Linked DNA regions of Homo sapiens: region 1 is linked to region 2. Evidence: fine-mapped expression QTL. Tissue or cell type: monocytes after LPS. Region 2 holds a variant in brackets; the other region holds the start of a gene. All regions are shown on one strand. Distances are between the middles of the regions.

What was found. PIP is the estimated chance that this variant, and not a neighbour inherited with it, causes the effect.
Region 1: TBX3 starts here. The variant in region 2 is fine-mapped to the expression of TBX3 in monocytes after LPS (Fairfax 2014, PIP 0.95). The same link has a PIP of 0.9 or more in monocytes.

What each region holds. Positions count from the first base shown.
Region 1 is chr12:114,676,151-114,692,319 of GRCh38, forward strand. It overlaps TBX3 (T-box transcription factor 3), which reads right to left and starts at 8,025. Exons shown (of 7, transcript NM_005996.4): 1 at 6,662-8,025; 2 at 4,729-4,996; 3 at 3,355-3,501; 4 at 1,430-1,506; 5 at 163-320. The coding sequence starts at 7,050. TBX3-AS1 (TBX3 antisense RNA 1) reads left to right here and starts at 6,142. Exons shown (of 2, transcript NR_187552.1): 1 at 6,142-6,484. RefSeq lists enhancers at 1-83, 9,847-10,699, 10,439-11,345, 10,700-11,550 and a promoter at 8,027-8,536.
Region 2 is chr12:114,753,566-114,769,734 of GRCh38, forward strand. It overlaps TBX3-AS1 (TBX3 antisense RNA 1), which reads left to right. Exons shown (of 2, transcript NR_187552.1): 2 at 13,719-14,423. Among named protein-coding and RNA genes, the nearest start is that of TBX3, 77 kb to the left of the region's middle. The variant T/G (reference allele first, on the strand shown) is at 9,300.

The DNA of each region.
Region 1 (16,169 bases), 77 kb before region 2:
CACACCTGATAGCCCTTTTTGAACTCTGGCTTCTGTTTAAGGATGTTTAGAAGGCTTCTAGCTTTTAAAGGGCAAGTGCCCTGGTTGGTGCCCCATCCCCCTTCAACTCTTCCAGGCCACGAGGGACTGGAGTCCAGTGATCACAAAGGTGACATGGTTTACCTTTGAGGTTCGATGTCCCTACAGTGGAGGCGGCTGGAGAAGAAGCCTGGGCGAAGCAGTTGAAAGCTGCTTGTTCACTGGAGGACTCATCAGAGGTCCCATTCTCCTTTTTGTGTCTTTCATCAAACACCCTCATGGACTGCAGGGTGAGCTGTTTTCTGTGGCAGAAGCCCACACCCAGGTTACAGAATGTAACATACATTTCCCCTCTTTGTTTCCCTTACCCTTTCCAAAGCGGCACACACATACCTCACACCCTGCCTGCTGCCCAGGGACAACGCTAATTCACTGAAATCTGCTTGCCCCAGGGCAGCCACATAGACCCAAGCTTTGTCCTTGACCCTCTAACTGGGCTGAAGAGTGTGGCAGAGGGTTAGGGAGAAAGGAAGGAGGCTTCAGTTGCATTTATTCAAGATGGGGTTTCATTAGGAAAAGGCATTTGCTTGGGCTGTGAAATTTTATTTAAAAGCAGGAGAAGAGGCTGGATCTAGTCAGAGACAGCTGGACTGCCAGCCTTATATAGGGAGAACCGGGTGTCCAATCCTGCAAACACAACGCTGTCTGTCCCCAGCATACCCAAATTTTGGATGGTGGCTAAGATTGGGAGGAAGTGGTTATTTCATGCTGCACTTTACTGTAATCGTTTTACTAACAAATTAATTGGAATAAAAATATATTTAGCTGTTAGCAATTATTTTTTAATGCCCGCCCCAAGGGGATAGGTTAAAAATTTGGGGGTGATTTTCTGGATTTTAGAAATTCTTTGAAAGGGGGTGGGGGAGGGGAGACCCTCTTTCATATACTCTCCAGCTGTCTACGTAATGCAAAATGATACATGTCCCCACGAAGGAGGGAGAGAGCCATACATCTTTCCGAAGTCCCCAGCTCTGTCTGATGGTATTTGGAAGACAGGATTGCAAAAATTCCCAAGTATTTTCTCAATGGCATGGTTCTTTCTGGGACCTGCCTAGGATGAACTTAAATTAATTAGGAATTAATAGGCATCCCTGTATAATCTATTATCCCTGATGCTTCTCTTCCAGAGATAAGTATGGTGTAGCCTAGTTAATTTCCTTAAAGGTAAGGAGGTAGGAAAAGTACTTGTCCTGGGTATACTGATAGCGGCAAGCATGTAGCAGTGGGGAAAGTGAATGATTTCCACCCGCTCTTAGGATAAGTGCCTGCATCTCACTTCTAACACTTCAGAGTTGGATCCTAAAAAAAGGGATTTTTCTAAACTATCTAATAAATAATTGTTTCAACTCACCTTTTTTCTCTTCGGCCATTTCCAGTGTCCCGGAAACCTTTTGCAAAAGGGTTGTTGTCTATTTTTAACTGGGTTATCTATTGGAAGAGACACAAGCAAGACAGAGACATTGTTCTCATTTTCTAGAATGTTTTGAGGGTGTTTTTCCCAACTCAACAAGTCTAGAGATGTGACTGCCAACAGAAGTCATATAGATATGCCAGGGAAAGGAGATAATAAGGAAACTGTGGCAGGGCTTGTATCTCCTATATGAGGCCAAACCAGGGATTTGGGGATGAAATTATTCAAAGAAATTCTTTTCTTTGGGCAGCCAACAGTTTGGGTTTAGACATGGAAGTGTTGTCAAAGTCATCAAGAGGGAAAACCTGTAGATCTTAAAATTATGCTTTCATTTTGATTTTTATACAGTGCAATTAATCATAAATTATAGCATACTCCCTTCACACACACACACACACACACACACACACACACACACTCCTTTTCCATGAATCCAATAAATGATTTATGGGGTTTCACTACCCTTGTGCGGGAGTGAGTGCGGGAGTGAGTTTAATTTTTTTTTTCTTTGCCTGGGGGGTGGTTTGAGGAAATTACAATATTGACAGTTACAGTACTGAATGACCACTGGAAACATCTGTTTTCATTTATATGCTCTGCCATGGCCATTAGGTGGAGAAGGCCCATGGCCTTTTTGTCTGATCAAAAATGCTACATTTTATTATTACATTAACAACTTCATTTCACAGGATTCTGGGTCTAGAGGGCACATGCATTTTGCACTTTGAGAAAAATGCTATAGTGTGTAATCTTTCAAATCCCTTCCCCTTGGTGGGAAGAAGAAGTTATATACACAGAGTTACTCAGAGGTGGAAAGGGGGACCCTTGGTTGGATTCATGTTCTTGGAATAAATTGCTCTATTGAAGACTTCAGGTTTCACAGGGAGAGAAGATCATGTTTTGGTATTCACACTAAAGAAATTTAGCTGGAACATCCCCATCATGAAGTCCACAGAGGACCCAAGGACAGTGACAATGACAGTGAGTTCAAAATGAAGTGTGTTGTCAGGTAAAATGGACTCTCTTTGAAGTCCAGGATTGCAGAGCAGGGGTCTTCAGTCCCTCCTCCCACCCCATAACTGCTAACAGCCAATCTGGGAACTGGTGAATCAGCAGTAAGGGTCACTTTTTCTGTGCCCATGACCTTCAGGCCACCATAGCTCTAGATATCAGGTGCTTTCCCTTTTGGGGATCCTTCTAACCTCCAGATTCAGGCCTGGGGGAGGGGGGGAATTCAAATGAAGTGGTGACTTTGGCCACCCCAACTCAAAAGCCTCAGACAACTCGATTAATATGACCCTGTGATCAGGGTAGGTTTTTCCAACCACACGCATGCATGCACACACATGCACACACACACACACATCATAACACAGCAGCATAAAAGGTAATAAAAACCAGACCAGCTACTCAGGATTTCTGGCTAGGGGAGAAAAGCTGGTCTCTACTAGGATTCTCCTCCCAGGATCCCAAATGGCTTTTGCCTTAAATTTTTAGCTGGTTCCTTTTGAATGTGACTTCTTGATCCTTCTTCCCCAAGGGGAAGAAGATGAACCTTAAAACAGACAGGACAAAGCCCAAGAGGGGGGGAGGAGTGGGTGGCATCAATGACAGCAGTTCTAGGAGTTTCTCTGTGGCAAAATTAGTATGGCGTTTTTTTGCTCAGCATTGTTCCTACCTAGTCAAGGTGTTTTTCTGTCTCCTCGAGGTGTCATTGTCCTTTCCCCCCAAATGCTCCACAAATCACAAAAGACAACTCAAGACTCTCGTCTCCACTCTCTTGTAACTTTCTCATCCTGACTTAAAGCAGCTTTTAAGGGGAAGGCAAAATATCACCATTAAAAAGGAAAGCCCCTTGAGTTTACCTTATCATTCTGGTATGCAGTCACAGCGATGAATTCAGTTTCGGGGAACAAGTATGTCCGAAATGTACTATAAGGGAGTTTCAAGATGTCATTGGCTCTTACAATGTGGAACCGGGGCTGGTATTTGTGCATGGAGTTCAATATAGTCTGCAGGGGCAGGGAAGAGGAGACATACATAAAACAAGGATTTAGCAGAACAAACGGGATCTTAGGACCCCTGCCAGGCTGAAATCTTCCCCACCGCAGGGTACCACGCTTGTACCGAGCCCACCTCCTTGGAGTACCCCCTGGGTACGTTTCGCTCCACAGATGTTATCTTCTGGAGAATCCAAATTGCTCCTCAGTTGCCAAAGGGCCCCCCCCACCCTCACCATCTAAGGATCATTCATACCTTGAACCCTAGCCTACCTGAGTACCAAAACTATAATTCCCCTGCCACGTAGCGTGATCACTTGGGAAGGCCAAAGTCTTAAAAGATAGAGAAAAACATGCATTTTAATTTACAAAATGATTCAGTACTTTAAGCGCCCACTAATTGACGAGCCCAATCCACTTAAAGCCCTGAAAGGCTGAACTCTAGAGAGGAATATTTATGCCTTAATCAAATCAAGGGCTTCAAATGCAATTCCTGCCCGCTGAAGATATTTCCGCGCCATTCGCGTCTTCCTGGGCCTAATCTTTCTGCTTACTCCTTGCTTATCACGCTGTTTATTTTATTGAAATGTTGGGGAGGGGTAGGAAAAGGCGCAAAAGGTCCTTTGCCTGATATCTACAAGCAATGAAAGTTTTCTAAGTTTCTAAGCACTGTCACTGAATCCATATATACACTCCCAACACACAAACCATTTTTTTCTGAAGATCTAAGCCTCATTTAGGGTAAGCCGGACTCCCACCTAAGCCCAATTCTTTTTTTAGTAAAAGAACGAGTTTTTAAAAATGTATTCACACCATTTAACCAACAGAGTCAAGGCTCCGAAACGTAAACTCTCCTGAGAAAATAATATCACTGGTTTCAAAACAGAAGTATGATATTTTAAAACAAAACAAATCCTTTAGGAATACATAGCCTTGAAATTGATTTTAGCTCTTAAAAAATGGTTTTTAACTTCACTCTCAGGTCAGGAATCTACCAAAGAGCTGGAATTGCTATAGAACACAAGCCGGTAAGTTTTCTTGCCCCATTTCTTTTAGAACGCCAGGCCTTCCATTATTTGGAGAGAAACACCCCGAATCCTTTTTCCAGACGAGGACAAGTTTGCTATGCTTAGGGAGAAGCAAAGGAGAAGTCTGGGCTGAAACTCATGAAATGGGAAGCACTGCCTTTGACTGAGTGAAGGAGGAGAAAATTTTACTGAAGAGAGCAATGAAACTTACAAATCCATGTTTGTCTGAAATGTTGTTGGTGAGTTTCAGTTTGTGGAAAGTGACGACTTTGGACATCCACTGTTCCCCAGTAGCGGGGCTGTCCGGGTGAATGTACATCCTCTTTGGCATTTCGGGGTCGGCCTTACCAGCCACCATCCACCGAGAATTGTGAAATTTATAACGACAGTCATCAGCAGCTATAATGTCCATCAATAAAATGTATTTGGCTTTTTTATCCAGCCCAGAACATCTCACTTTAAATGGAGGAAACATTCGCCTATAAAACGAAAGAATAGAAAAGAAAAAGAAAGATAAACCACCCGTAATCTTGGGTTTGATTTCCTATGTATCACATAATATTGAAACCAAGTCTAAGACTTTATATTGTGACTGATAAGCTTACATGTTTCAGAGTGAGGCAACTGGTTGCAAAATCGTTTTCTTCCACAACTAACGTATTAAATATTCTCAGTTTCGCCATATTTAGACGTCCCAAGGTTCAAAACAAATGCATTGTGGCACTGCAATTCTCTACATTGTCTAACAATTTCTTCAATATTTTTTTTGTCCTTGCTTGACTTTACAGATTGCCCTCCTGAGAGCAAATTCTTGCCCATGTCTTTTTCTGTGGGTATCTAGATCTAAACAGGTTGGGGTAAGATTTTTGTAAAGCGCGGTCAGTTAAGACTAGAATTTTCCACCACCCATTGATGAGAAAATGTTAAACTTATCAAGGAAATGAACGTCAAGTTGCACCCCTCCCTGCTGCAGAATAGCAATCCCGCTGTGGGCGAAGTGAAACTGGACTTCAGTGAGTTCCCAGAACGAATTTTGCAGACTTCGGTGCACTCCTGGGCCTGATAACCGATCTGCCCGTGGAGCTGCTAACACATTCCCCCACTTCTTAGGCCAGTCCAAAACCGCAAGACTGTGCCACCACATTGCTGTTAATTTCACAGAAGGGTTGGCATTCTGTAGTCTTGACTTAAAAGGAAGCAAGGAAGCACTTTGCTGGAAAACTGACTAAATGTCTTGTGAGTTTGAGGAGGATTTTATGCCAAACTTTGGCCTCATTTAGCTTGGAAGGAGACAGAACGCTTAAGATATCATGAAGGGGATTTTATTTTTGTATCAACTTTATGCCTTTACAGGCTTCAATGCTATTACAAAAAAAAAATCAGTGATTTTAAATGACTATTACAGGATCTTCTCTTCCAGGCAGGTTTTGGTCAGGCAAGGACCTTTAAACATTATGTAAAATATGGTTGATAATATTCACACATTAAAAAAAAGGTGTGTGTCTCCTCACTGGCTCCTTAAGTCTGCAAACATAATCTTAAATTATGCAAAATTGCCTGCTGAACTCGCCCTTGGGTTACAGACACGTGAAGTAGTGTGGGCAAACAAACCAAAATGCCCTTCGATTTCTCTCTGACCAGGGCAGCAGCAGGCCCCTTTAGACCCAGAGGCTAGACTGGAGGGCAGAAAGGGCCGGGGAATGGTGTCAGGCCTCCCAATACCCACACAAAAGGAAAGGGCTTTAAGTTTTTCTCTCTGAGAACAAAATAAAACAGACAACACAACATCAACAAAGAAATAAGGATGTTCCAGGAGGGTTTGAAGAGTGAGTTTCTTGCAGTAGAGTGCCTTTTTTTTTTTTCTTTCCTGCTCCCTGCAGGGATGTCTGTGCTCCACTGAAAAATTCTGTCTGTTCGGGAGGGAACCCAGGATGCAGACCAAATGCAAGACCCATGCAGATGCCCAGGTAAGCTGAAATTTCCTGCCACCGGGGCAGGGCCTGGAAGTCTGTGCATACATTTCTAGGGGAACTAACTTTTCGTCCAAGCCGTAATAACCGACCAACCGACTGTTCTGGGAGCAGAGAAATAAAGGGAGGAAAAAACTCTCCAACAGCTTAGGGGAGGAGGCCCCCACTGCTTACCTTCCCGACTTGGTAATGACCATCTCGGTGCCCCGCTTGTGAAACTGATCCCAAAGTTCTTTAGCCTCCAGGTGCACCTTGGGGTCGTCCTCCACCTCTTCTTCGGGCTCCATGGTCTTCAAAGGCCTCAGATGCGCCTGGGGCCCCAGGGAGGAGAACGGGATGCCGGTCTCGGCCGCCCCCACCAATTGATCCATGATCGGCTTGGCCAGGGCGCCCGGCAGCGAGAGCGCCGCCGCGCCGTTGGGAGGCAGCGTCAGCGCGGGGAAGAACGGCGGCTGGTGACCCAGCACCGCGCTCATGGCGAAGTCCGGCGCCCGGTGAGGTAGGAACGGATGGTAGGCCATGCTTGTCCCAGGAATGACCGGATCTCTCATGGAGAGGCTCATCCACTCCAGGCGGGGCGCTGGGCTCCAGCCGGGGACAAGTCCGCAGCTGCTGTGTTTTGTTGTTTTTTTGTTGTTGTTTAACAGCAGCACATAATTCAAAAGGGGGGAAAAAGCAAAACAAAAAAGAAAGAAAAAAGAAAAGGAGGCAGAAATCACAACTAATGCACTTCAAAGGGAGGAGGGGAAGTGTCTTTTGGAGAATGGGAGGCCGCTTTTAAAGAGGGCAAGGCGAAAAATCAGCAAACATAGTCGCGCGGGTGACCGTCCTTGTGCCTTGCGTTTTTAAAAAGCCGCTCCTGAACGTCGGTTTCAGAAGCGAGAGGAGCGAGCAGGGTCTCGACTCGCGCCCGAGCCCTGCCGCTGAGCTCGAAATAGACACTCCAGCCCTGCGTCCCAGGAATCTCTCTCCAGCCCCTAGGTCTTTTGTTGCAAATGTGAAAGGTTCTCCTAGAAGACTTTTTACCTTTCTTTTTCTTCTTCCCCCGCCCCCTATCTGTCTTCCTCTCCCTCTTTCTCGCTGGTGGCGTCTGCAGCTGTGCTAGACCCGGCTTTAACAGGGAGCGAGAGAGCGGAAAAAGTCTCTCTCCTTTAAAAAAAAAAAAATCTGATTTAAACCCCCTTCTACCAGCGCTATCAAAACTTGAATTGCAAACTGGCTTCCGTTCGCCGCCCTCCTCCTCCTTCCTCTGCTCCGAGCCTCCGGAGGGTGTCTCGGTTTCAATCCAAATCTTGCTGGGCTCTTCTCCCGTGCCTCTCTCTCTTCCTTGTCCTAAAACGTGAGCGAATTCGCTTCCTAAATCTGTGTCCAGGCGCGCAGGGCAGGGAGGATTTAGAGGGGGAAAAAATGGAACAGAGGGAAAGAGAGGGAGGGGAGAGAGAGAGAGAGAGAGAGAGACGGAGTCGGAGAGGGAGGGAGCGAGAGAAAGCGAGAGCTCCTCGCCACCCTCCGCCGCCTCTAGAATTCACCGGGCGTCTGCTCGGCGGCTCTAGAAGGTCGGGCTGCGCTGTGGGCTGCGGGGAGCCGGAGGCCTCTTGATTGGCTCTTTGACGCTTTCGGACCAATTGTGTTGCTGCATAGGCGTGGTTTTCACAGGTCGAGTGCTGGGGGATAGAGCTGAGTTATAAAAAGAAGGTGTCGGAAACTGTAACGTCGCAGCGCCGCATCGGTACTACTGCCTGTCCTGTGAATATGTCAACATGATCAGAGGGCGGGCGGGAGCCACTGGGGAGCGCGCGCGCACAGAGTCGCCTCTAGGTGGCTTATCGAGAGATCGCTGCAGCCCCTGAGCTCGCTCGCTCGCTCTGGTTCAGCCCACGTCTGAAATGCCTCAGTCATCCAGCCGGGGATCGAGGGAGGAGGCAGGGCCAAGGAGGAAGGGGGAGGGAGAGAGGGAGGGAGCCAGCGAGCAGGCGAGCCGGGCGGGGAAGGCGGAGAGCGCGCCCGGGCGCCGGGCAGGGGCGCTCGCCTCTCTTGCACTCCGCTCGCCTCTCCGACCGCCGCGGCCGGTTCTCTCTCCAGCTCTCCTTCTTCTCCCCGCCCCGGGCGAGCCGGGCGGGTGGCCGAGCCTCCCCGCGAGCTGCCATCCGGCCACTCGGTTCTACAAAAGCCGGCGGCAGCCGAGAAGCGAGCGCCGAGACTCCAGGCTTGCGTGCTCTCCAGCCCCACGTGGAGCCAAGCTCCGCCCGGCCGCCGCTGAAGGGCTCCCGAGCTCGGGTGTCTCGGTGCTGGTCTCCCCTGCGTCTGGGCTGGGGGAGCACAAGGATGCGGCCATATCTCAGCACACGCATGTGTGGGCTTCCTCTCCACTGCGCCCCACCCGCAGCCATGTGCGGGTACCCAAACACCCCCGGTGTATCTGTACTCGAACACGCGCCAACACACTGGGACTGAAACACACACCGAAAAACACGTACACACAAACACGTACACAGCCTGCGCGGCTGGCCCTGCCTGAGCTCCTGGGGAAGATGGATTTGGGATTTTTATGAAATGCATTTACCAGCCCTTTTGGATCTCGTCTTTCATTTGCATGCGGGCCCCCATATTCCACCTGGATGTGGGTGTGGGTGTAGAGAAGAGAATGGAGGATCTGGACAAAGCGAGCACAGCGAGAGACTGGGTTCTGAGCCTGTCCCCTCCAAGCCGCTGCCCTCACCTCGAGGCCCGGCTGGGTGCACAGCACAGGGTAAGGGGTGGGCGATTGGGTTGGGGGAGGCGCGCCAGCCTGGTATCTTCTCTAGGCATCGCACTTATCTCTCGGTGCCTCAGTTCTTTCTCCACCCCGGGGACTTAATCTGGCCAGAAGTCGGGGAGGGAGGGTGAATTTGTAAAACAAACCGTGAAACGCCCCCACCTCAGAGGCGAGTTGACTGTTTTTAGTACGGGTAGGGTGGGGGCCTCCTCTTAGGCGGACGGGAGGGAAACGACCGGATCTTACCAATCGCCGAATTACCAACTCTGTTACCGCAGCGCCCGGTCGGGGTCAGAGGATTCGCCTAAGCCCACAGTTCTTGATTCTGGGGGCCAATGTCTTGGACCATCCTTGCTTAGATGGAGGGAAATCTTGAAAACAATGTTCTTTTATCTTTCCTGAGATGAAAGCTTCTTCGATGGAAAGGGAACGGAGAAAGGGCTGATCTGGGGGCTTAGGGGTTTAAGAGACTCAGGGCTTTGGATGTGTGTGTCTCTGTAGGCCAGCACAGGCCTCTCTCGCATTTTGCCTTGTGCACCCGCGCAACCCCCAGCAACCCCGAAACCCCAACGTGGCACCAAGGGAAGGGTGAAAATGAAGTGCTCTTGTGGGCCAACCACGCTGAGATAGGGGAGGATCTTTTGAGGCGACAGGCTTCTCCAGCCTCGCATTTTTGACGCACATGGTTAAGAGAGCTTGGCGCCAGCGTTGAGAATTCCCTGAAGTCACCAGAGAGAATAGTGTGGTTCTGCGAACTCCGTCTGGCTCGCCATCTCGCCCCTTTCTTTCCCTTTCAGTCTGTCTTTCTCTGGCGTCCTCTCTGTCTCTGCCAGTGGTTAAAATAGAGAAAGGAGAGAGAGGGAAAATTACGAGGTGGTGGTGCCCCAGAGTGTTGGCTCATAACACCCCCTCCCGCATCCCCTCCTCCCCACCTGAAGGGTGCGAAAGGCCAGGCCATTTCCCGCCTTACACAGAACACGGAAGTCACTGCAGGGTTTCATGAGTCTCTGGGGACCCCCGCCCCAAAAAAAAGAAAAAGAAAAGAAAAGAAAGAAATAGAAAAAAAAAGTGCACCCCCTCCCCCAGACTGCTCGCCTCCGGGGCCTGGGGCCCCTTCGCTGCTCTTTCAAGAGCGGCCCCAAATCCCAGCGATCTGGTTTTGCCTGCCTGCCCTCGCAGGCCAATCTCTGCCCCACTACTTGGGGTGGAAGCAAAGTAGTTCTACAACCACACTGTGACCGACCTCCTCCTCACCCACTCGGTGCCCCCAAGCGTCCCACGCACAGCAGAGAGACATTCCTCTGCATTCTGGCCAGCTGTCAGCTTTGGAAATGGGAGGGGAGCTTGCGGATTTTACTTAAAAATGTCTAGATTTGTTTTTGGCTCCGCGGGTGGACTGAGAGGGAGTTCTGCCCCTCACACTGTCCTCCTCCCTCAATTGCCTATTTTTTGCCCATAGCTCTAACTTAACCCTGTGATCACCCCAGATCGCTACTTCTGACCCCCATCTCCTCTCCCACACCAACCTCCAGCGCGCGAAGCAGAGAACGAGAGGAAAGTTTGCGGGGTTCGAATCGAAAATGTCGACATCTTGCTAATGGTCTGCAAACTTCCGCCAATTATGACTGACCTCCCAGACTCGGCCCCAGGAGGCTCGTATTAGGCAGGGAGGCCGCCGTAATTCTGGGATCAAAAGCGGGAAGGTGCGAACTCCTCTTTGTCTCTGCGTGCCCGGCGCGCCCCCCTCCCGGTGGGTGATAAACCCACTCTGGCGCCGGCCATGCGCTGGGTGATTAATTTGCGAACAAACAAAAGCGGCCTGGTGGCCACTGCATTCGGGTTAAACATTGGCCAGCGTGTTCCGAAGGCTTGTGCTGGGCCTGGCCTCCAGGAGAACCCACGAGGCCAGCGCTCCCCGGACCCCGGCATTAGGCGCCAGCTGCCGGCTATCTGCGGTCTTTTTCTCTCTGCAGACCCCTCGATCCTCTTTCCTTCGGTCTCACACTCAACAAAAGACAGACTAGAGACGTTGAAAGAGCCTGCCCTTCAACAGAGTCCCAGAAAAGGGTGACTTAAGGGGAGGAGAAGGGAGAAAGAGGGCAGATTCCGGGTCAGAAAAGACCCAGATAATTTCTGGCGTCTCTGAAATATTCCTCCACCTTTTCGCAAAAAGAGTTTTCACTTAATTGTAGCTCTAGAATTAAAAAAGTAAATTAACTGAAAAACCTCTCTATCTGCAATGCCCGCAGCATTTAAAGTAGTGCGGGTGCAAGTAGGCGAGTGTTAAAGCTGGGTGGGGGGAGGACCCTGAAAATAATGTTCCTTTGTGGGGGTGGGGTCGGGGTGGGGGTCGGGGGAAACAAAACCAAATCAACTGTCCTTAGCCCAGGCCACGGTGCCAGCAAAGAAGCTGGCCTTGCCCGAGACGGAAGCTTAGCCCACGCCACTTTTCCCTGCCGCACTGCCTGCCTCAAACTATAAAGGGGACAAACCGACCCTTTTGTGATCAAATGGTGTTTATCTGGAGTTTACAAAAAGGGCGGGGAGGAGGGTAAAAGGATGGTGGGTAGGCGGGGTCGTTTGCTTTGGCCAGTTTGCTGTAAATATTCCCTTCAGCATGTGTGAGGTCTGGCAAGGGAGTATTATATGCTTATTCCCTCTTAAACTTTCACCCCCGTTTGCCGCAGAGCTCTTTTCAGTCCGAGGTGTCACTAAATTGGGAATTCTGTTGACAGAAGGGCATCCAAGATTCACCGGGGGTATGAGACCTAATTAAGAAGTTTCATACAGGGGTGGGTTCATATATGAACTTTTCCTGGGGGAGGGGCGTTCTGGTCATCCTGGCAGTTTGGCAATGGCTCCTCGTTTCTGCCCAGTGCCCCAGCCCATTTGATCTCAGGATCCCAGCCTCTTTTGATATTGACGAGCTTTGAAACTGACCAGGTGCCTGCCCCCCAAGGGCTCCCATTCTCTTTCGGGCTCAATTCTCCCACCTGAGGAAGTGATTTTCTTATCACGGATCCCAGGGAAGTAGCTCTCTAGTTTACTGTTTGTGGTCCTCCTGCAAATTGCCCTAGCACCCCCTACCCCTCTGGGGTACATACATTAGCACTGCTATGCTACCCTGAACCCTGACTCTCCCCCTGGCAGTGCTGAACCCAGTGGAGGCTTGCTCTTCCTCCAGGAGTCTCCACTCACCATGCACCCCCATCCCTTCCTCCTCCCCAAAGCTTGCTTTGAGAGCTTAGTTCCTCTCTGGTCCAGAAGCTGCCTGTCAGTCCCTTGGAGACAGGCTGGACTCCCCCACCTTTCCTCCCTCCAGGGCAGACACTAGCTTCTTGGTTGGACCAGACAGACAGGGCAGGACATTCACCTTTTGTTTCTTTTTCCATTCCTTTCTTTCTCCTCCCCACCACCCCCCCCCCCCCTTTTCTTTTGGTCTCCTTGTCTTTCTGCTCATCCCCATTTAGGATTATTTGAATGCGTGTCTGGAATCTTTCTTATTCTTTTTCCTTCTACTTTCTCTTCTCCTCCTTTCATCAATCTTGTTCTTGGTTTCTATTTCTCTTTCTTGTCTTGTATCTATTTCCCAGGCTTTAACTTCTCATGTTTTGTTTTGTTTTTTTTTTTTTTCTACCTTCTTTATCCTATTTTTTCTGGCTGTTTTGGTCCTGTCTGAATTCTCTCCTGTCTTTCTGACCTGGTGCCTCCGTACTCTGCCCCCTTTCCCTCCCTCATCTTTCCCAGCAACCATGACAGCCTGGAGATCCCTCTTCCTGGGGCTGAAGCAAACACCTTCCCCTCTCTTCCTTGACTAGAAAGATAAAGTATCTTGAGAGATAGAAAAACATTGTGTGCATTTGCCTAGAGTGGCAGTTTTACCTTCTCCTCTTGGCATTTCCAAAGCCACCCCTTTCTCCAGAGTTGAACCCCATCTTTGCTCCCTAAGCTCTAAGGCCACCTCCCCATCTTTTCCAGAGCAGGAACCTAGGGTGAGGAGCTGCAAGTTAACCTAGGAACCTAGGGTGGGGAGCTCTATAGCCCCCAGCTCCCAGCTTCCTACTTGCCCCAGCAGCACGGAGCTTTCCTGTAACACACATTTCCCCTATCCTCTGACATTCCTCTAAATTATTGATCTGGGCAATTTGGTGCAAGCGTCTGTAGCATGTTTCAGAGAGAGAAGACTGAAAGTTGTCTAGCTTGGAGAAGCAATATTTTTAGTACAGAGGCTCAGTTTGTTGCCAGTTGGTTTATGCCGTTTCTAGAGCATCATTCGCTATGCACTTAATCCATGCTCATCATACCTCCTTAATGTAAATATGTTTTTGGCAGAGGCAAAATGAAAACATTTTGCCCTCCATATTATTCTTATTAGCACCTACCTTTCCTCAAAGCTGATCACCCTGCAAAATGGCAAATTTGTACACAGCCAGTGATTTAGATAAGTTAGAAGGGAAATGAGAGAGGTAAGATTGAAGGATGTGTGTGTGTCTGGGGAGAGTGCTTTTTCTACATCTGTGAAGGTTTTTTCCTCTCTCAGGAAAGGGAACCAATTGTGGTTTCCTAATTTCAAGTCAATCTATATCTTCAACCTTCTCTTTGTGTGTGTGTGTGTGTGTGTGTGTTTTACCTAATTACTTTAAAAAAAAAGATAATGCAATGGGCATTATTAGGCCAGCAGAAATGAATTCACAAGGAAGGGGCCAGGAATTTTTTCTCTCATTTTATCTGACCCAGAACCACCAAGACACAGGCCAGAGCTGACTTTTGCCCCAGGCACTTTTGACCACCCAGCACCTTTCTTTCTTCAACATCCTCTTTCTAGATTTTCAGTCGAGACAGGTAAGGGTATAAGTGGCCTCTCAGAGGTTTGTATCAAAATTTTACTTGTAGGGTAGAGGGACTAAGTGACAGAATACTTTAAGAGGGTGGAGGAGAAATTTAACAGTCCTCTCATGCAGACGGAGGGTGACATTCAAATGGGAGAATTTACTTCTGTGGTTTGCTACTGTTTCATTCTTTCCCTTATCATTGGTAGTGTTGTTAGGTGGCAGGGTTGTGGGGCAGAGTGGGGTTTCGCCCTGGGGGAGCATATGTGGCAGAGGGCACAGGAAGATCTGTAAGCAAGAGGGCATAGCAAATTAAATGACCACACTGTCAGGAAGGTTGACAGGCCAAAGAAAGATCAGCTCCTCCAAATCTGCTGAACTAACTCTCCCCTCGTAGCCCCAGACACGTTTTCTCAATTTGAGCACAATATCCATTACTATTTCCCGTACTGGGTTTCAATTAAAGAGAGTGAGAGTAGAAAGTTCACTGGTGTTTGGGGGTTCATTTATTTCCAAGCAGGATGCAAATGAAAGGGAGCCGTGGGCACAGAGTTGTCATGTGTGTTTTTCCTCCCTCTTCTTTCCATTTCCTTCTTGCAACCTTCCCTCCACTTCTTGCCAGCCACCCAGCACACCCGTGTTCCCAAAGCAAATGTTTTCATGTCTTGAAAATCCAGTTAGGGTGAGGAGAGAAGGAAGGTGATAACATCATACCTACTGATGCCCCCTAGAGATGAAGCTGTCCTGGGGGCACTTAAGGCTTGAGGGAAGGATTTACCTTCTCGAGATGGGCACAGGAATTGGGGTAGTGTGAGCACTTGAAGGGTTCCAGGTTTTACTGTTGCACTGAAAACAGATGCAATCCCTCCTGCTGTAACATGCCCCTATGGAAAAAATCTAGCCTTCTGTGCAGTTATCCTGTTTTGGTCCTAGAACACAGGGTGGTGATCTTGCTTCTCTGGGGGGTGCCAGGCAAATAGAAGACGTGAAAATCTGCTGCCAAGGTCAGGATGTAGGTCCTGGATTCAGGATCTTGACCCCAGGCCTGCCCTGTCACCGAGCAGTGGTCTCACAACCAGGCAAACTCTCTGGCCAAACTCACTTCACACAAACTTGAGCTGAGCACCAGCCCTCCAACCCCCTCCACCTTCTATGATCACTGACTTTGTACCATGGCCACACAGACCACTGGGCAGAAGAGTAGCTGCAGGGTGTCGGTCTTAATTTCATGACACTCTGCGTAGCCTCCTCCTCCTTCCACGTCAGCAAAAGAAACTAGAGGCCTCAACAATGTGACTGTATTTTGAGTTGGGATGTGTCCCTCCCAAATCAATCATCCCGGCTCCAAATAATACAAACAAATTCTACATATTTTAAAATGTCCCAAGTCTTGTATGATATCCAGGGACCGATTAGTGCCGACTGGAGAGACTATTCCCTCTCCCATTCCGAATAAAGGGTTAGGTGAAGGTTGTGGCCCGAGAGATCCCAGAAGCCCTTAAAAGTCTTTAGCTTGGGGTTTGAATAATGAGGGCTAGATAAGTTTGTTTTCTCTTCCTTTCAAAAATTTTTTTATTTTAGAGGAAGGGGAATGAGGAAGGCGCACGCGCGCGCTCACACACACACACACACACACACACACACGCAGAAAGAGAGAAAATGTTTGGAATTGTGAAAGTGCCTTTCCTAGTAGTTGCTTTTACTGGCGCCCGGGCCTCAATTCATTTCATCTCTGAACCAGATACTAAAAATCCTCCAGGCGAGTGGAGAGGACCGGCCTTCCTGGATCGGGAACCTGCCCTCTGTCTTCCCTCGCAGCGCCCTTTCCTCCTTTCGCTTGGGAAAGGAAGATTTCGAGCCCCAGGAAGGAGTTGGGAGTGAGCGACAGCCCAGAGCGTCCCATAAGGTCCTTTTGGCCATGTTTCTGCCCCGGGGGGCTTCACCTAGATCCCCCACCCCACCCCTTACCCCTGTTGCAAATACGTAAGCTGGACGCGCCTCGGTGCGGATCCAGGCCTCGCTGAGCACGGAACCGGAGAAGCAGCTCACGGCCTCGGATTCTACTCTCACCCAAGGGTGGAAGGGGGTGACAGGGCTC
Region 2 (16,169 bases):
CGCTCCCTCAGGGAATTTCTGCTCACCAGTGACAGGTGGATTTGCAGGGAGATCTCTTCCTCGCAGTAGAGTCTTTGGGTTGTTGAGTTCTTTTATGGGCATGCTTGAACTCTGGAGAGCCCCCAGACTGACAGCCACCTCTGTCTGCTAAATCGATTGTAAATTTTCCTGGCATTATGTCATCCTGTCATCCTTTTACAGATGCTTTTGCCTGCCATATTTTTATGACTCTTCTTCCAAGAGGGGCTGCATGGAGGGTGGTGGGTCAGCGTTATTTATCTGGAAGGAGAAGAGCAGGAGAATTTCTTATCACTGGTATCAGAAAGTGGGATTTCCCACTTATCACCCCCTCTTTGGCTTTGAAGTTTAAAGGCAACACCAACTGGCTGGATCAAGTAGTTTAGGGAGTTCCTTAGGCTGCCATCTTTATAAAATTGACAATGACCAGAAAATGGGGGACTCCCACCCTCCCCTAATTTCATATCCTCCTAGATACTTAAAATCACAGTAGACCAGCCCTGGAGTTTGTTTCCAGGACAAGAAGATCTTGACTGGATTAACGTATTTCCCAATGGAGGCTCTGAGGCTTTGGCAAACATAATAAGAGGAGCAGCTCTTAAACAACAACACTTGAAAAATTAAACAAGTAATATATATTCATTATAGGAGAAGTAGAAAAGGCAGATAAGGAAAAAGAAGAAAATGAAAATCACCTGTAATCCCATTACATAGGGCTAACCATTCATAGTTTACCATATATCTTTCTAGTCTTCTTCTGTGTATGGTATATGCATTTTAAATGAAAATAAGATTGTATCGCATATACTTTTTTGCATTTATTTACTTATTTATTTATTAAGGAGACAAGAGCTGACTATGTTGCCCAGGCTGGTCTCGAAATCCTGGGCTCAAGCGATCCACCCACTTTGGCCTTCCAAAGTGCTGGGATTACAGGTGTGAGCCGCGAAGTCCAGCTTGCTTTTTTGTTCTTTTAGATGGGATCTCACTCTGTCACCCAGGCTGGAGTGCAGTGGTGTGATCATACCTCACTGTAACCTTGAGCTCCTGGGCGCAAGTGATCTTCCCACCTTGGCCTCCTGACTACAGGTGTGCACCACTATGGGACTACAGGTGTGCATATCCATGCCTGGCTAATTAATTTTTTTTTTTTTTTGGTAGAGATGGGGTCTTGCTCACTGTTGCCCAGGCTGGTCTTGAACTCTTGAGCCCAAGAGATCCTCCCACCTCAACCTCCCAAAGTGCTGGGATTACAAGTATGAGCCACTGTACCAGGCACATATCACATATACTGTCAATGGTTCTATTTATCAGGTAAATCATATACATATACATATATAATATTATAATATATTCTACACATAGTATATTTATCTATCTATTTATATGTATATTTTGAGATGGAGTCTCTCACTCTTGTCTAGGCTAGAGTGCAGTGGTGTGATCTCAGCTCACTGCAACCTCTGCCTCCCAAGTTCAAGTGATTCTCCTGCATCAGCCTCCTGAGTAGCTGGGACTTAACAGGTGCATGCCACCATGCTCCATTTATTTTTGTATTTTTGGTTGAGACAAGGTTTCGCCATGTTGGCCAGACTGGTCTCGAACTCCTGACCTCAAGTGATCCACCCACCTTGGACTCCCAAAGTGCTGGGATTACAGGCATGGGCCACCACGCCCAGCCTCTAATATATTTAAATAATACAGAAATAACAAGAACAATAAAAACCCAAATTGTACCCACTATTGACCTCCTAGTGAACACCTTTTTTTTTTTTTTTTTTTTTTGAGACGGAGTCTCGCTCTGCTGCCCAGGCTGGAGTGCAGTGGCGCAATCTTGGCTCACTGCAAGCTCCACCTCCCGGGTTCACGCCATTCTCCTGGATCAGCCTCCCGAGTAGCTGGGACTACAGGCACCTGTCATCACGCCCGGCCAATTTTTTGTATTTTTAGTAGAGATGAGGTTTCACCATGTTAGTCAGGGTGGTCTCGATCTCCTGACCTCGTGCTCTGCCAGCCTCGGCCTCCCAAAGTGTAGGGATTACAGGCATGAGCCACCGCACCCAGCCCCAGTGAACACCTTTCTAGATCTCTCTTTTCAGATTGTTTGCTAACCTGCTTTTACAAAGCTTAGCAATATAGAATGTGCTTCTCCATGCCAATAAATCTGTCTCTACACCAGGAGCTCAGTTGTGTTCCACTGTCAGGAGGCATCATGGGCCAGGCTCAGTGGCTCATGCCTATAGGCCCAGCAATTAATTTGGGAGGCCAAAGTGGGTAAATTGCTTGAGCCCAGGAATTCAAGACCAGCCTGGACAACATGGTCAAGCTTCGTCTCTATAAAGAATTTAAAAGTTAGCTGGGTGTGGTGGTGTGCTCCTGTAGTTCCAGCTACTTGGGAGGCCGAGGCAGGAAGATCCCTTGAGCCCAGGAGGTCAAGGCTGCAGTGAGCCACGATCGTGCCACTGCACTGCAGCCTAGGCACAAAGTGAGACCCTGCCTCAAAAAAAATAAAATTAAATTGAATTGAAATTTTATGACACACCAGGCTTTAGCTAATACCCGCCCCCTGCAGTTGTATAGGTAGCTTATTTCCAGTTGTTCACAAACACCTCTCAGCTTAGTTGCCAACACTTTTATCAGATGACATTTGCTTCCTACCCACAGCCTATCCAACAAAGGTGCTCCACCCCACCCACAACTCTGTTTAGCAAGATGGAAATTCAAATACGCTCAGAAGGTTTTTGTTTTTGTTATTGTTTTTTTTGAGACAGAGTCTCGCTCTGTCACCCAGGCTGGAGTGCAGTGGCACAATCTCTGCTCACTGCAACCTCCACCTCCCGAGTTCAAGCAATTCTCATGCCTCAGCCTCCCAAGTAGCTGGGATTATAGGCACGGGCCACCACGCCCGGCTAATTTTTATATTTTTAGTAGAGACAGGGTTTCACTATGTTGGCCAGGCTGGTCTCAAACTCCTGACCCCAAGTGATCCTCCTGCTTCAGACTCCCAAAATGCTGGGATTACAGGCGTGGGCCACCACACCCGGCTTTTGGTAGCAGAAAATCCAGTTGACAGTCATTTAAATGACGAGGGGCCTATCTTTCTCACATGATGAGTAGTCCAGAGGTGGGCTGCTGCCCTGTGAGGTCACCAGCATCCCAGTTTTCTCTATTACACTTCCACCGTCTTCAGTATTTTCTCTTGTTATTCTCATGCTTGCCTCTTGTTCAATGATGTCTGACTAAGCTCCAGGCATCACATCTCTGCCATTAAGACAAAGGAGTGGCACCAGAAAGAAGGCTTTCCTCTTCAGCATTTCTCCTTTATAAGAAATCAAAACTTGGCCACGTGTGGTGGCTCATGTCTGTAATCCCAGAGCTTTGGGAGGCTGAGGAGGGCAGATCACTTGAGGTCAGAAGTTCAAGACCAGTCTGGCCAACATGGCAAAACCCCGTCTGTATTTAAAAAACAAAAAATACAAAAAATTAGCTGGGTATGATGGCGAGTGCCTGTAATCCCAGCTACTCAGGAGGTTGAGATGGGAGGGTCACTTGAACACGGGAGGTGGAGGTTGCAGTGAGCCGAGATCATACCACTGCACTCCAGCCTGGGCGATGGAGCAAGACTTTATTTTATTAGCTCAAACTCTGCAACATGGTCAACTGTAACTGCCAAGAGGCCAGGAAGGTGAATCTTTCATTTTTTAGACTCATGGTAGGCGGCAGGAAGGGAGAGGGATGCTGGGACTGGGTGTTGCATCAGCTAAGCAGTGGTTTAGGCATAGCATCCAAAACATTCTCATTACAGCTAGGCCTGTTCTGGGCATTGCCTTCACCTATGACTCTAACTTCCCAGATCTCACCGGTCTCTTATGTCTCCAATCCCTGCTCCTAACTTTTTTTTTTTTTTTTTTTTTTTTGAGTCAGAATCTCACTGTGTCACCCAGGCTGGAGTGCAATGGTGTGATCTCAGCTCACTGCAACCTCCGCCTCCTAGGTTCAAGCGATTCTCATGCCTCAGCCACCTGAGTAGCTGTGATTACAGGTGTGTGACACCACACCTGGATAATTTTTGTACTTTTAGTAGGGACAGGGTTTCACCATGTTGGCCAGGCTGGTCTCAAACTCCTGACCTCAGGAGATCCACCTGCCTCAGCATCCCAAAGTTCTGGAATTACAGGCATGAGCCATTGCCCCCGGCCCCTAACTTTTCTTATTGTGTGGTCTGGCCTCTTGGTTTAGGAGATACATTTGGACTCCTTCATGCTAGACTTGGCTTCTTGTTCAACTCTTGCCTCTGTCTGGCAGATGCTTCCTACTTTGTAAAGTGCTAGAAAATTGGAAGGACTTGTTTATTTGCAAATGGAGTCAGTGCTGAGCTCCACAGTGCAGGGACTAGGAATTCCTTCTGTGAATTCCCAGTCTCCAGCAGAGAGGCCTTCACAATTTATGTCCATTTAACCCAAATAAAGGGAGGGCAGTGGGGCATCTTTGTAAACCCTTGTTATTGCACAGGTCATAATAGATGCAGGGCTGGCAAATGACGGACTGAGTCAGATTCTTCCAGGGGGCATTTCTTCGGTGGCCAGTGGTTAAATCTTGATTCCAGAAATGTTTACCAAGAAGAAACATTCTGTAGCATTAGAACTTGCACCCTTGAGAACGCTGCTTTGTAACTAGAATCATGGGATGCTTTTGAGTTGAACCATGCTCCAGTTTTTTTGTTTTGTTTTGTTTGTTTGTTCGTTTGTTTTAAGGCAGAGTTTCGCTCTTGTTGCACAGGCTGGAGTGCAATGGTGCGATCTCAACTCACTGCAACCTCCACCGCCCAGATTCAAACAATTCTTCTGCCTCAGCCTCCCAAGTAGCTGGGATTACAGACATGTGCCACCACACCCGGCTAATTTTGTGGATTTTTTTTTTAGTATAGATAGGGTTTCACCACGTTGGTGAGGCTGGTCTTGAACTCCTAATCTCAAGTGATCCTCCCGCCTCAGCCTCCCAAAGTGCTGGAATTATAGGCGTGAGCCACCGTGCCTGGCCCATGCTCCAGTTTTGTCTTAGGGGAGTTTTCTCTGCCTTATAGCCGCAAAGTCCGTGCTCTAGGGTGAGGTCTAAAGCTATGTGGAGAGAGTCTGTGGTCGGGTGTGCTGTGAACCTGAAGCTTAGAGCCAGATCTAGATTCATGATGATTGTTTCATGATTTACCAAAATGAGTCCATGGTCTAGACAGGATGGAAACAGAGAAACCTATTCTCCCAGTGTTTGTCAAATAAAACTGGAAAAAAAGTAACATTGATCATACAGAAAAAAATATAAAAAGGTGATGAAGAAAAAGAATGAAGTTTTTGGCTAGGCGTGGTGGCTCACAGCTGTAATCCTAGCACTTCGAGAGGCCAAGGCAGGAGGATCGCTTCAGCCCAGGAGCCTGAGACCAGCCTGGGCAACACAGGGAGAGACCATCTCTACAAAAAAGAAAAAATAAAAAAATTTAACTGGTGGTCCCTAAGCTACTTGGGAGGCGTAGGTGGGAGGAACGCTTGAACCCAGGAGGTTGGGGCTGCAGTGAGTCATGTTTGCACCACTGCACTCCAGCCTGGGCAACAAAGTGAGATCCTATATCTTACAAAAACAAACAAACAAACAAATAAACAAGCAAAGTGGCTGCCAGGAGCTGGGGGTGGGGAAAATGGAGAGGTGTTGTTCAGTGGATATAAAGTTTCAGTCATGCAAGATGAGTAAGATCCAGAGCTCTTCTGTACAACATTGTGCTATAGTTAATACAGTATTGTGAACTTCAAAATATGATAGGAGGGTAGATCTCATGTTAAATGTTCTTATCACAGGAAAAGCAAACAAAAAACAATAACAAAAACAAAAGCACACAGGACACTTAGGAAGGTGTTGGATATGTCTATTACTTTGAATGTGATGGTGGTAGCACGGGTGTCCACACACATTTGAACTCATCAAACTTACACACGTTAAATATATCCAGTTTTGGATATATACAGGCGCAGTAGCTCACGCCTGTAATCCTAGCACTTTAGGAGGCCGAGACAGGAGGATCATTTAAGCACAGGAATTCAAGACTAGCCTGGGCAAAATAGTGAGAACTTATCTCTATTTTAAAAAATAATAATAATAAAATAAATAAATATATCCCATTCTTTGTATATCTATTTCTCAATAAAGCTGTTAAAAAATACTCCTAGCTGGGCGTGGTGACTCACGCCTGTAATTCTAGCACTTTGGGAGGGCGAGGCGGGTGGATCACTTGAGGTCAGGAGTTTGAGGGCAGCCTGGCCAAGATGGTAAGATCCTGTCTCTACAAAAAAATACAAAAATTAGCTGGGCATTGTGGCGCTCGCCTGTAGTCCCAGCTACTTGGAAGGCTGAGGCAGGAGAATCACTTGAACCCGCAAGGTGGAGGTTGCAGCGAGCCGAGATCGCAGCACTGTACTCCAGAGTGGGTAATAGAGTGAGACTCTGTCTCAACAAAAAAGAAAAAAAAAAAAACAAAACCTATTTTATAGGGTTATTTTTATGATTCATTGGGTGAGTATTTATAAAGTGTACAGAAGACTACCTGAAAATAAATGCTTGAATGAGCTGTTGTAGTCTTTCTCTTGCTACGTGAAAGCCAGAAACAGGTATATTATCTCTGTAACCTCAGTGCCTGATATGCTCTGTCATTTGGAGGATGTTTGCTGAATGACTGTATGACCTTCAGTTGCTGGAGATGATGGTAGAAGGCTGACCTACCTCCCACATGCAGACAGTAGACACCTAAGCCTACAGCTAAGTCTGCCAGAAGTCCCACTTCCCAGCCTGTTTCCAGACTCATATGTCCTCGGGGGAGAGGGGTAAAAACAAAGAAAGCTCCAGATCCGGTTTGGCTAATGTGTGGAAAATTCCACAGATGCACTGTCTGGTCCCAATCGCCCTTCTCACTGCCACCAACTGCAGCATGGCAGACACACCAGAGAAAAGAGAAGGTGAAAACATTTCTGAATGCAGAAGCAAATTCAGCTGGTGCGTGGGGAGCACAATGTTCCAAACACAATTAAAACCCAATCAGCGTCCGGAAAAGTGCATTCATGTCCGTCAATCAAATGACAGAGCACATGTGGCGTAGGCATCTCTCTGGGGGCTGCTTCTTCAAGAGTCGTCATTGATGGCAGAGATGGCCCCCACCCAGGCAGAATCCAGCATAAGCCTTAGTCTCAGAGGCTGGGATTCCAGGTAGAGGAAGAAGCCTAGGACCTATCTCCAATTTTTTTTTTTTTTTTTTTTTTTTTTTTTTTTTTTGAGATGGAGTTTCGTTCTTGTTGCCCAGGCTGGAGTGCAACGGCGCGATCTCAGCTCACCGCAACCTCCACCTCCTGGATTTAAGCGATTCTTCTGCCTTATCCTCCTGAGTAGCTGGGATTACAGGTGCCCGCCACCATGCTCGGCTATTTTTTGTGTGTTTTTAGTAGAGACGGGGTTTTCTCCATGTTGGTCAGGCTGGTCTCGAACTCCTGACCTCAGGTGATCTCCCCGCTTCAGACTCCCAAAGTGCTGGGATTACGGCTGTGAGCCACCACGTCTGGCCTTGTTTTTTTTGTTTTTGTTTTGTTTTGTTTTTTTTTTGAGATGGAGTTTCACTCTTGTTGCCCAGGCTGGAGTGCAATGGCATGATCTTGGCTCAATGCACTCTCTGCCTCCTGAGTTCAAGCAATTTTTCTATCTCAGCCTCCTGAATAGCTGGGACTACAGGCGTGTGCCACTCTGCCCAATTTTTTTTGTATTTTTAGTAGAGATGGGGTTTCACCATTTTGGCCAGTCTGGTCTCAAACTCCTGATCTCAAGTGATCCGCCAGCCTCTGCCTCCCAAAGTGTTAGAATTACAGGCGTGAGCCACCGTGCCCGACTTTGTTTTCTTTTTAACTCTTGATGTATGTCGATGCTGAAGAGGAGAGATCAGCTGACTCTTCTTAGGAGCCCATTTCTTTTTTTTTGAGATGGAGTTTGGCTCTGTCACCCAGGCTGGAGTGCAGTGGCACCATCTTGGCTCACTGCAACCTCCACCTCCTGGGTTCAAGCGATTCTCCTGCCTCAGCCTCCTGAGTAGCTGGGATTACAGGCATCCGCCCCCATGCCTGGCTAATTTTTGTATTTTAGTAGAGACAGGGTTTCACCACGTTAGCCAGGCTGTTCTCGAACTCCTGGGCTCAGGTGATCCACCTGCCTCGGCCTCCCAAAGTGCTCCCAAAGGCGTGAGCCACTGTAGCTGGTCCCCATTTATTTTCAAGAAGGAATGAGAGTGGCTCATTGATTGAATCAACACATATTTCATGTGGGGCTGGGATTACGGATGGTGGCTCACATTTGTAATCCCAGCACTTTGGGAGGCTGAGGAGGATGAATTCCTTGGCCCCAGGAGTTCAAGACCAGCCTGGGCAACATAGTGAGACCCCAATTCTACAAAAACTTTAAAAAATTAGCCAGGCGTGGCGTCACAGGCCTGTGGTCCTAGCCACTAGGGAGGCTGAGGTGGGAGGATTGCTTGAGCCTGGGAGGTCAAGACTGCAGTGAGCCATGATCGTGCCACTCCACTCCAGCCTGGGTAACAGAGCAAGACTCTGTCAAAAAAAAAAAAAAAAAAATTCATTTGGAGGATGCTTCTATAAGCCCACTGCAGTGCTAGGTCAGTAGTTCTCAACTAGGGGTGATGTCCCCAGGTGACATTGTGCAATATCTAGAGACAATTTTGGTTGACACAACTTGGGGTGCATCTAGTTTGTAGAGGTCAAAGATACTGTTAAATATATTGCAATGCACAGGCCGGCTCCTATAACAAAGAATTACCCAGTTGGAAATATCAAGAGTGCTGAGGTGGAGAAACCCTGAGTTTAGGCCCAAGTGTTATACGACAAGGCCCAAGCGTTATACGACAAGACAGAACAAGACAGACGTGGTCATTGCGCTGGCTGGGTTTCCTTGAACTTGGCCGGCTTAACTATTTCTTTAAATAGCTGGATGTGGAGAGAGGCCCCTTTAAGGACAGTGTTGGTGTTTCTTTTCTCCTCTAGCGTGTGTCTCTGGGGCCTGCTGTGTGGCCGGGTGTTGGCTGGTGAGTATGTATGTGCGTGCGTGTGTGTGTGCGTGCGTGTGTGTGTGTGCGCGTGCGTGTGTGCGTGCGTGTGTATGTGTGTGTTCAGAGCTGTGGGGGGTGTCTGTTTGGACTTGTGCGGTTGTCTGTTTATGTCTGTGTACATCGGTGTGGCTCTGTAAGAACT[T/G]TTCTGTCATTTCCTTCCCCTGCTTGCCAGAGAGGCAGATGTGGCTTGCAACGTCCTTCTAAGGTCAAATTCATCACCAGACGAGATTAAGAAACCATTAGGGAAAGACCCTCCTTTGCTCCCTTCCATCTTCCCATCCAATCCCAATACCCTTCCACCCTCCCTGCCCCCACCTCGGGGATAAAACTAGAGGTCAGTAAACTTGCCTCTGAGCTGAAGCTTTGAACTTGAAGTTCAGGCTAACTCCACTGTGCCTGCCTAGGCATCCAGGAAGTATTAAAAATGGTGTTTCAGAGGAATCAAAGCACAGCCAGGACAATGATGGATCCAAACTGGAATTTTTTATCTCTGCATTATTAAAATTTGGGGCTGGGTAATTTGTGTGTGGCGGGGGGCGGCGGGGAGGGAGGCTGTCCTGGGCCTTGTAAGATGTTGTGCAGCATTTTTGGTCTGCATCCACTAGATGCACCCCCAGTTGTGACAACCAAAAATGTCTCCAGACGTTGTCTAACATCCCCTGACGCACACAATGAATCCCAGTTGAAAAGTCATCGATCTACAAATACATAGAGCAATGTGGTGAATCTCACGTGCTTAATTTTTTTTTTTCAGTATTGATGAGATACTTTTGGTAATAACGAGATACTACTGAATCAGCCCATTTTTTACTTTTTTTTTTTTTTTTTTTTTTTTGAGGCAGTCTAGCTCTGTCACCCAGGCTGGAGTACAGTGGGGCAATCTCGACTCACAGCAACCTCTGCCTCCCGGGTTCAAGCAATTCTTCTACCTCAGCCTCCCAAGTAGCTGGGATTACAGGTGCCTGCCACCATACCCGGCTAATTTTTTTATATTTTTAGTCGAGATGGGGTTTCACCATGTTGGCTGGGCTGGTCTTGAACTCCTGACCTCAGGTGATCCACCCACCTCAGCCTCCCAAAGTGCTGGGATTACAGGTGTGAGCCACCATGCCGGGCCTCACACACTTAATTTTGAAGGAAAGAAGCCAGCTACTCAAGTGTGATGTTGTGTGGTTCTGTTGATGAAAAGCACAAAAATATGCAGAGCTAATCGATTCTGTTAGATGTCAGGAGAGTGGTTGCTTTATCCTAGTGCATATTGACTGGAAGGAGACACTGTGGGGACTTCTGGGGATGTCTGTTTCTTTTTAATCTGAATGCTAGGTATGCATATGTTATGTGTGTAGTTTTCTGTGTATGTTGCACCTGAATTAGAAGCAGATGTGTGCTGAAGCTAGCGCAGTGGCTCACACCTGTAATTCTAGCACTTTTGGAGGCCAAGGCGGGCGGATCTCTTGAGGTTAGGAGTTTGAGACCAGCCTGACCAACATGGCAAATCCCCCTCTCTACTAAAAATACAAAAAAACTAGCCAGGTGTGGTGGTGCATGTCTGTGTTCCCAACTACTTGGGAGGCTGAGGCAGGAGAATTGTTTGAACTCGGTAGGCAGGCGTTGCAGTGAGTCGAGATCTCACCACTGCACTCCAGCCTGGGTGACAGAGCGAGACTCTGTCTCTACAAAAAAAAAAAAAAAAAAAAAAAAAAAAAAAGGAATATATGTGCTGAGAGGAGCACATATATTAAAGAAATACATTTGGAAAATCAGCACAGACTGTCTTAAAAAAAAAAAATCCTAACAGTACAGGTTTATCTTCCCAAACTCTGTAGTGGACAGTTTATGAGAAGTTTTATTCAAATGATTCTTACAGAATCCCCCCAGCTGTTTCTAAAGCTGCAGGGACAATAAGACCATGAAGCAATGATCTGATTGAAGAGAACACGTTGTCAGCCGCCATACAAACACACACTCACTCACACACACACACACCCTCAAACAGAGATGTCACGGGGCCTGTGTAGAATCGAATTTCCTGCCTTTGTGTTCCCCAAGCAGCCCTTCAGAGGAGAGAAAACTGCAAACTGACACATGAAATGGACCAATATGCCAGGTTGAGACTTCTACAAACAAATGGCCCTTTTCATCTTCTGGAGGGGAAAAAATAATCTACGTGGGCGACAATCAGAGCTTGCCTCTTTTCAGCCATTTAAAAGGAAAATGGGGCTGGGTGTGGTGGCTCATGCCTGTAATCCTAGCACTTTGGGAGGCTGAGGTGGGAGAACTCCAGCTCAGAAATTCGAGACCAGCTTGGGCAACATAGTGAGATGAGACCCTGTCTCTCTATTAAAAAAAAATAAAAATAAAAATAAAGGGAAAGTGAGTCAGCCCAGTAGCTCACATGTGTAATCCCAGCACTGAGAGGCCGAGGCAGAAAGATGGCTTGAGCCTAGTAGTTTGAGACCAGCCTGGGCAACATAGTGAGACCTCCGTCTCTACTTAAAAAAAAAAAATTAGCCAAGTATGGTGGAGTGCATCTGTAGTCCTAGCTACTCAGGAAGCTGAGGTGGGAGAATCACTTGAGCCCAGGAGTTCAAGGCTGCAGTGAGCTATGATCGTGCCACTGCACTCCAGCCTGGGCAACAAGCAAGATCCTGCCTTTAAAAATTAATTAATTAATTAATTAATGGAAAGCGTGGCTTCGCGGCTCTGTCCTGAATCCTATTCACGCATGCTGGTCCCATCTCAGTCCAGAGGACCCCAGAATATTACACTTGTAGCATCTTGGGTCATAATGGACACCAATGCAGCCACATGGATACCAAAAGCACAGACTATAGGCATTCCATATTTTCTTTAGTGTCCTCTTTCAGGGAAACCTGAGGAAGGTTCTGGAAGCAGGAGGATCCCAAAATGTGCCTGAGAGACCCCTGTCTTCATCCCAGAGGCCTCCTTAGACATCAGCATTTGGGGAAAAAACTGTGGACATTTGCTGCAGCCTCCCCAGCTGGTCAGCATTATTAAAGTGGGGCACATCTGTTCTTGGCTGTTAGCACGGAGAAGAGGAGGGGGTCGAGTGAGAGGAGAAATCCCCAAACGCTTGGACTGATCCCACCTAGTACTAAGAGCAAATTGCCTCTAAGTTGGCATCACGGAGAAGTGCTTCATGAAGGGGCAGAGATTCCTCATCAAAATACCCCTTCTTACCCACTTCCCTCCTGCCGCCCTTCCCCCTCCTCTCTCTGTCTAAAACTCCCCAGGTTCTAGCCAGTCTTGAGATTTATGACCTGTTTTATTTTGTGAACCCCCTAAGATCGTATTTGGGTGATGAGGAGCTGAGAGGTCTGCAGATAGCCTGTTGGTTGGAAAAGGGAGTATAAAGTATAATGAATGCAGTATATTTCCCAGTTGCTCTTTCATGCACATACATAAAGTTATAAATGCCCCCGAGCGTGTGGCAAGCACATAGCGGCCTTTGAAACACACACAGCAATATGCTCAGAGACAGCACCCCCCCCCCCCAGACCCATGCACAGCGAGGCATCACACGCTTGCAAACACATGCAAAAGACCCACAGGCGTACAGGAGCATATTCATGCACAAGCAGACCCATACCAACATACAAAACTAGAAACAGATGCAAACCAACATCCAACATCAGACCCAGATGGGGCTATGCACCCCAATATGCACCCCCCTACTGCTGCGGCCCCTCCAAAAAGTTGAAATGCACAGTGCTGGAAGGATCCTTTTAGCTCCCTCTTCAATTTCCCTTGCAATATGAATGTCTTCCAAATTGCAGCCCTGGGACCTACAAACTGCACTCCATTCTGCTTTCTTTTCTTTTTCTTTTTCTTTTTTTTTTTTGAGACAGACTCTCGCTCTGTTGCCCAGGCTGGAGTGCAGTGGCATGATCTCAGCTCACCGCAAGCTCCGCCTCCTGGGTTCAGCCATTCTCCTGCCTCAGCCTCCCTAGTAGCAGGGACTACAGGCGCCCGCCACCATCCCCAGCTAATTTTTTGTATTTTTAGTAGAGGCGGGGTTTCACCCTGTTAGCCAAGATGGTCTCGATCTCCTGACCTCGTGATCCGCCCGCCTCCCAAAGTGCTGGGATTACAGGCGTGAGCCACTGCGCCCGGCATTTTTTTTTTTTTTTTTTTTTGAGACAGAGTCTCCCTCTGTCACCAGGCTGGAGTGCAGTGGTGTGATCTTGGCTCGCTGCAACCTCCGACTCCCTGGTTCAATTGATTCTCCTGCCTCAGCCTCCCGAGTAGCTGGGGTTACAGGCACGCACCACCACGCCCAGCTAATTTGTGTATTTTTAGTAGAGACGAGGTTTCACCATGTTGGCCAGGATGGTCTAGATTTCCTGACATCATGATCCCCCCGTCTCAGCCTCCCAAAGTTCTGGGATTACAGGCGTGAGCCACCGCGCCTGGCCTCTACTTTCTTAATAAGACCTCCAGGCGCATGACAAAGCAGAAACCTTCAGAAACAAAATCTACCGAGTTCGAAGAACGGGCCTGGCCCAAGGCACTTTGGACGCTGTCCGTTCTGTCTTCACAGCGGCTTGCAGTAAACTTCTTGGAGGAGAATTGGCATTGCAAGGGTGTTACTGGAGACCTCGGCAAGAAAGTGAATGCAAAGACAGATGACCCAGGAACCCGTGATGGATAAGGCTCTTGACAGCCAGGACGTGGAATTACAGGGGGTCTCTTTGAGAGACAAAATAAAAAAAATAGCCCAGTAATCTTCCTTCCACCCTTTTCTCCCAGATCTAATTACAGATGTCTTGACATTCCTTCTGCATAGAATTTCCTTAAAAGATTTGCCAAGAAGAAACATTTGGAAACTGTGTTTTAGGTATAATCCGTCTGGGAGTCACTCTTGCTCGCTTTGTCGTTAGATGACAAAACGCTTAATTACAGCGAGCACAATGTATACCACATTTGGAAAACTGGATTCTTGACCTAAATAATGTACCCCATACTGACAATGGCCTTTTGGCAAAACTTGTGTCTCTGATCTCACATTAATTACTACACAAATATACTTATTGTGGGCACCGAGTTTATGGGATGGAGTCCTCTTGACACATGTTCACCATAAAAACACATTTTTTTCCCTTCCCCTGACCCTAAGGAAAAGAAAAAAAAAAAGATTAACATTTTTCAAGATGCTGTTTTAGTGACATGAAAACTGTCTGTTGAGTGTTCACTCGGCTTTTGTTCTTTTTCTTTTCTCCTTTTATTAAAAAGCCTTTCAAACCAAGCATTCCTGGTTTGTGATTCTTTACTTTTGCTTTTATGCTGAGGGAGAGACAGATTAGATTAGATTAAAGACCAAGGGACACCTCGTGAAATACATTCCATCTAGAGGCAATTTGGTTGAGAGGGCCAATTGTGTGTGTGTGTGCCTGTGTGCGTGCAGGCGTGCGTGTTTCTCCTTGTGGCATACTGGTGGTCTTTTTACAGATACAGAGTTCTGGTTTTTGGAAATGCGTTTATTCCTTTAGCCTTTTTCCCTTCAGAAGCCTGCAGCCTTTGATTGTGGCCTGACTTTTAGGGGTCTGCGGCATTTTGGGGGGTAGTAAATCTTATTAACTCTTCCCTTTAGTGTCTCGCCATTCTCAAAAACTTTTACAAAAAGCAGCAACACCGCCCTCACCAAAGACAGATGAAAGGAGCGGTTTCAAAGCCCCTCTCCCCCCTGCCCCAGCAGGCCCCCAGATTGGTCTGATGATGTCACAGGGGTAACCACGGCAACAGGCCGTGACATCATGACAAAAGGAGGACTGACCTTGGCCTGGAATTCAAAGCAAAAGCAGCTCATAAACTTCTAAAGCAAGCAGGAGATAAATATCCTTAGTCATAAAAGAACAAACGAAGTTTGGGGTGGGGGGACGGGGGAAAAAAAAGCAGAACTTTTTTTTTTTTTTGAAATACAGTAAAATGTGTTGCCAAGTTTTTCAGGAAGTGCTAGTGGCCATTTTGATGATGTGAACTAGATTTTAAAACAGAAAGAGGAAAAATGAATGTGGTGGACAAGGGCTGCTGACAATATTAGATAGAATCAGGTGAAACTTTTCCCTAAACTATAATTTGTAAAATGGGGGAGAGGGGATGAGCCAGACCAAAGCAAAACAACAGACAAATTCATTTCTGAGTGAGAGAAGGAATTACATGGCAGGAGAAAGGGAGTAATCCAGGAACTGTATTTATCAAAAAGAGAATGTGCTCAAGGCAACATAGTACTCCGGATGGGATCCTGGGCCAGAAAAATGGATGAAATCTGAAGAAGATCTAGAGTTTAGTTCAGAGTAATGAACCAATGTTGGTTTCTTAGTTTAAAGGATTTTTTTTTTTTGAGACAGGGTCTCACTCTGTTGCCCAGGCTGGAGTGCAGTGGCATGATTTCGGCTCATTGTAGCCTCCGCCTCCTGGGTTCAAGCGATTCTCTTGCCTCAGCCTCCTGAGTAGCTGGGATCACAGGCATGGGCCACCACACCCAGCTAATTTTTGTATTTTTAGTAGAGACAGGGTTTTACCATATTGGCCAGGCTGGTCTTGAACTCCTGACCTCAGGTACCCTCCCGCCTTGGCCTCCCAAAGTGCTGGGATTATAGGAGTGAGACACCATACCTAGCCAATTTTAATTTTAAAATTGTATTTATTGATTTATTCATTTATTTTTAGATTCAGGGTCTCTCCACCTCCCGGGCTCAAGTGACCTTCCCATCCCAGCCTCTTGAGTAGCTGGAACTACAGGGTCACCCACCACTTTTGACTAATTTTTTATTTTTTGTAGGATGGGGTCTTGCTATGTTGCCAAGGCTGGTCTCAACCTCCTAACCTCAGATGATCCTCTCACCTCAGCCTCTCAAAGTTTGGGGATTACAGGCATGAGCCTCCATGCCTGGCTTGCCTCCAGGAAACTTAAGGAAGTCCCCTGCGTCATTCTAGAAGGTGTTCTTGTCCTTAGAGTCTTCTATGAGTCTACTGGCCCAGTTTCACAAGA